Linked DNA regions of Homo sapiens: region 2 is linked to region 1. A link means that fine-mapping ties the variant in region 1 to the expression of a gene that starts in the linked region. Tissue or cell type: whole blood. Region 1 holds a variant in brackets; the other region holds the start of a gene. All regions are shown on one strand. Distances are from middle to middle.

Region 1 (2,687 bases):
ATGTTGCATTTTCTGAGACCACTCTAGCTGTCACGTCCCCCCCATCCTGTGCCCATATAAACCTGAGACCTTAGCGGGCACACACACAAGCGGCTGAATGTCGAGAGGAACAGAGTGGCAGAGAATAGCAGAGAGCGGCAGAGAGTGGTGGAGAGCAGCAGAGCAGCACGGCAGAGAAGGAGGGAAGAGGCGTCTGAACATCAAGAGGAGTTGCGTCCAGAACGGCGGAACTCCAGGGGAAGATTATCCCCACACCCCTCCACCTTCCCGGAATTCCAGCTCCCCATCCCGCTGAAAGTCACCTCCACTGTTCAACAAAGTCTCAGCATTCATTACCTTTCAAACAGTTCATATGACCTGATTTGTCCAGTACTCTGGAAAAGAATGGAGGTGGGGAGGTTAACACTCAGCTGTCCCCGGACAGCAAGGCTAAAGGAGCTCACTATAACACATGCCCACTTGGGCTCTGGCACCTTTCCGTCTGCGTGCTCCCCCTTCCCTCAGGGGTTTGAGCAGCGGCGGGGGAGGGGACCAAACAGGTGAGCCACACCCCTGCCGCACGTCCTGCAAGGGGAATCAGAAAACCTTCCCATTTTATAACCACATGAAAGATGACATCGCCTGCATCTTCCATGGCTTCCAATACTCGGTGCCAGAATGGTTCTGACTGCAGAGTGGTGAATGTTCCTCCTCCTAATTCCCTACTGGCCTTGATCACCTAGGCGTGGAGTTTGATACCTGCCCTTAAAAGAGCCAGCCACTTAAAGAACATACTTCTGTTCAAAACGTGCACATGTGAGGCACCCCTTCAGGGATTCCCTGGAAAACCTTACGAGCCTTTTTGAAGGGGGGGTAAAGCTGAAGGCCCTCTGGGTGTAGGTGGAGCTGAAATTCTGTGCCGTTGATGACTATGCAAATTTATTTGGATCCAAAGACTCCATGGGCCCAGGGACCTTTAGGCTATATTCAAACAGGGCTGCTATGTAAAGGTACTCACCGATATAGCTAGACCAGTTGTTTATAACCATCCTTTATAACTATCCTTTTCTGATAGTTAAGTGCTCACGACTGTAATAGTTGTTAAATATTTTAGTATCACTTTTTCCTAATTTTGTTACTT[A/T]ACAGTTTTGTGTACATGCCTCAGTGACTCAATTAGGATATGAATTCTTGGAATCCAATAAAATTTCTTTTTCTCTGTCTCTTTTTTCTTTTCTTTTTTTTTTTTTTTTTTTTTTTTTTTGAGACAGAGTCTCACTCTATCACCTAGGCTGGAGTGCAGTGGTGCGATATCAGCTCACTGCAACCTCTGCCTCCTGGTTTTGAGCTGTTCTCCTGTCTCAGCCTCCCAAGTAGCTGGGATTACAGGCGCCCACCACCACGCCTGGCTAATTTTTGTATTTTTACTAGAGACAGGGTTTCGCCATGTTGGTCAGGCTGGTCTCCAACTCCTGACCTCAGGTGATCCGCCCCCTTCAGCCTCTCAAAGTGCTGGGATTACAGGCGTGAGCCACCGCGCCTGGCCCATATAACAATTTTTTTAATGATTGGTCTATGCTATGAGAACAGATTATTACTAAGGTACAAAGTGGTGTTCCAGCTGCAGTTCCCTGCCTGAGCCATGCTGTTTCACACCTCTGTGCCTTTGCATATGCTCTCCTTGGGCTTCAAAAGTCCACTTCTCTTGAGTCCAAATAGGTGTTATCCATTGCTCAAGTCCAGGCCACTGACTCCTCGCCCTTGACCTAGGTAATTGCTTCCTTCTCTTCTCTGCCACTGCATTTTGTACATATTTCAATTGTTTTCCACTTGCTAAATTGTGACACACACCATCTTCACAAGGCTACAACCTCCTCTGGAAGGGAGACTTTTGTAACCACAGCAGTGCTTGCACATGATAGGTACTCAAGAAATGCTTATGGCATGAACAAATATAGTTTTGTGTTTTAAAAAGCTATACTCATGAGACATTTCATTAGAAGTTATGAAAACTCACTAAATTTACAACGACTTTGAAATGGTTCTTAGGGCGACAGATATGGTGAATTGGCCCACATAACCCATTCTTCTCTCCTTCTAGTGTGCTTTCATGATCTGCAAAAACTGAAAGAGCTAAAAATCTACATTACTGAGTCTGCTTTGCAGCTCAGATTCTGGATGGCATTTGCGGCACTTAGGTTTAGTCAATTAAATGCATTTGTATGAGATTTGGAAGGTAGAAGTGAGGTGAAGACAATGGATCTTCCATTTCTGCTATGGCTGCCAGCAAGAATGGGCAGGGACACGTTGGATATTCTGAGGCGGCTATCCCCGTCTGGTTACTAGCTTTCCTGGTGCCAAAGGAAGGGCATCCAGTTTATGCTGGAATGCATCTAGCAGGAGTAGGGTGACTGTTGTGCCAGGTGCAGTGGAAGTGGCTCCCATCTAAGGAAGTGCGTTCTTGAATAAACAGTTCCAGTGGGAGCTTCCTCACTGCCCACTTTCAGGTTACAAGAGAGGAAGAAACTTCCCTGCTGGCTAATTCTGGCATATTGTTCTGGGGTTATGCCTATGGTTCAGCCTAGAGCCCCAGCCCTTCTAATGACTCTTTGCATCTATTTCCAAGAATTAAAGCTCTTTCTATTGAAAAAGGCCAGTGTACAATTCGGTTTCTGCAAATGAACAAATTCTTTTCCTGATTTTAGATACAT
Region 2 (2,687 bases), 120 kb before region 1:
AGCTCCCAGGGCTCGGTCCCAGGAACCGGGAGCCGTGCAAAAAGCGCGTACACTGCCATCCACTGGCCCCGAGCAGGTAGTAGCAGGAGTGAGGCGCCTGCCACGGGAGCTCAGGAACTGGGTCCCAGTAAGATCCGACAAGACACCACCTCCCTTCCGCCCGCACAGCCTGCCCTCTCTGCCTGCAGCTAGCGTCACCGGTCGGTCCCCGATTCGGAGCAGCTGGGACCCTCGCGGTAGCAAGCGGATTCCGGGGCCCTAATGACACCGAAGGAGAGGGGCAGCCGCAAATTAGACCTTCTTCCTGGGGGCTCAGGCCAGTAGGGACTGTCCGTGGTGCCCTTCCCTTTCTTTCTCCTCCTGAACGAGAGCCAACGCTGCCCCTTCCCAGGACTGGATCTGAGCCAACCAAATCCTACAGCGCAGAGCCTGCGCCCCCGGCGGCCAGCCCTCCTGTGCCTAGGCAGGTTCACGCCGGAGAAAGTTTGCACGCAGGGACCTACAAGTTCCCAGCACTCTGCAAGAGGGCCAGTTCTGGGATGCCAGCACTTAGGACGGGCGAGTGATCCCCAGGCACCAACTGGGGGCCGGGGAACCAAGCGCGAGCCCGGGCTGTGGAGGGACCGACACCCAGGCGCTCGCAGCTGGGGAAGGGGGCTTACGTCTGGGGCAGGCAAGACTGCTGCACAGTCCCTCCAGCCACCCGGCGCCCGAGACGCCGGCGCAGACAGGAAGCTGTAGATCCCCGAGGGGCTGGCTCCGACAGCTCCACCTGCAGCCTCCCCTGCCGCCAGTGTGCAGCCAAGTCCACTAGATGCTTGGAGGGCACCGTGCGGAGGAGGGACTCTGCAGGAAAGGTGGCATCACCCCCGGCATGGAGACCGGGGTCTCCGGATCGAGCCGACTCGAACACTGAAGGAAACCCTGCCCATGACCCTGGGAGGGTCTCGGACGCCGGGCGACCGGGGTGGTGGTCGGGACCAGGGCCGTGCGCCTGGGAACTGGGTGCAGGGCGCTGAGCGCGGAACTGTCAGAGCGGGAGCTCACCGGCGGCTGGGGAAGGAGGTGGCATCGGGCGGAGGAGAGGACGGGGGCGGGAGGGGCTGACCCTGAATTCACCGGGACTAAGAGGCCATCACACCTGGCTGCGGTAGGACAGCGAATCATCGATCTTACCGGCTTTGGGGACCCGGCTCTGCGGCAGCGCTCTTCCGGAGCGAGGGCAGGAGACTGTTTCATGGATAAAAAGTCTCGCTTATTCTTCTGTCCACTTTTATCTTGGTCGCTTTTCTCTCCTCTACGTGTCCCCCGGGGAGGCACTACGGATGATTTTCTCCAAGCTCAAGAGAGACAAACTGAACTTTAAGCGCCAGGGGCCCCATATTTTGTCTGCTCTACAGATCCCACCCGCGGGCCACACCCTCCCTTCACTCCCGTCTCTGGGTCCCACCCATAATAACCCGTAATGACAGATCCTCCGTGTCCCCACCTCTTTGCATTCAAAGAAGTTATTCTTCAGGGGCATATGGAAAGTCAGTTTCTGCTGGTCTCCCTCAAAAACTTACACTCCACGAGGGCAGCAGAAAAGGACAGGACGATTAAGTTTAAGTTGTGGAAGACTGGTTGGGAGCAAAAGAGTTACTTTTCTCCAAATTTGCCATATCACATCGAAAGCATTTTCTTTTAACCAGAGTGTAGCCAATCAAAATTAACTGCAGGCGCTGGCAATTAAAGAACAAGTTTATCTCAAAAAAGGTTTAACGTTTGGAGGCCATTATTTGCATCAGGCATATGGAAACTTGCGTTCTGTTAGGTATGCTGAAGAAACTGCTTTTGCCAGACTGCCTGAGTCTTTGCTGAGGCTGCAGGGACAAGGGAGAACCCCACCCTGACTGCTTCCAAAACCCTAGTTCCTGATTTCCTGCAGAGGGCACCTACAGGCTGAACCTAAAAGGCGAACAAATTCCTGCCTGTCATTCAAAAGCAGCTACCTTTTCTAAGGCAGCGTCAAGGAGGGCACTGGAGGTACTCAACACAGTAATGATTACTTTACCAAGTCCAAGGCAATTGTCAAATGTGGCAAAGAAAAACACTTCATTGGGTTTTTCTTAGAAATGATTTTTCATCCAATTTCAATCAAGATCTTAATGGAAATTTTGAAAATTACTCATGAGGTTATTTAATAAATCCATCCCCATTATTTAAAGAAAGCCATGTAAAGACAACAAAATATGGGCCAAGCACTTGTTCTTGAACATTATTGCTGAGAAAAAAATATGCATTTGTAAAATGGGGGGGGCAGTATTTTGTTTCTGAAGTGAGATCAAATGTAGAAAATATTGCATATGTATAGTAAAATGACTGAAACACTGATTCCATGTTATTCTAACATCCGATTTGTAAACCAGTATCTGACAAATTTATCATAATTCACAATAATTCAGTTCATATTATGTGGCAGGTGTCATACTAAGCACTTTACATGTATTCTTTCAGTTCCACCAACTACTCTGAGGAAGAAGCTATTATTTTTATTTTAGAGATAAGAAAGCAGATTCAGGGAGCTGAAGTGAAGTAACCAGCCTACGCAAGCTAGCAAGAAGCTGAGCTGGGATTCCCCCGAGGCAGTGACTTCTGGATTGTGTTCTTACTAAGATACTACCTCATCACACACCATCACCGCAGTG

What was found. PIP is the estimated chance that this variant, and not a neighbour inherited with it, causes the effect.
Region 2: it holds the start of CORIN, and the variant in region 1 is fine-mapped to the expression of CORIN in whole blood (TOPMed, PIP above 0.99).

The regions. Positions count from the first base shown.
Region 1 is chr4:47,953,961-47,956,647 of GRCh38, forward strand. All of the region lies in intron 3 of CNGA1 (cyclic nucleotide gated channel subunit alpha 1), which reads right to left. All of the region lies in intron 1 of LOC101927157 (a long non-coding RNA gene), which reads left to right. Among named protein-coding and RNA genes, the nearest start is that of NFXL1, 41 kb to the left of the region's middle. The variant A/T (reference allele first, on the strand shown) is at 1,121.
Region 2 is chr4:47,836,711-47,839,397 of GRCh38, forward strand. It overlaps CORIN (corin, serine peptidase), which reads right to left and starts at 1,357. Exons shown (of 22, transcript NM_006587.4): 1 at 1,177-1,357. The coding sequence starts at 1,239. The region is part of intron 1 of LOC101927179 (a long non-coding RNA gene); the gene reads left to right.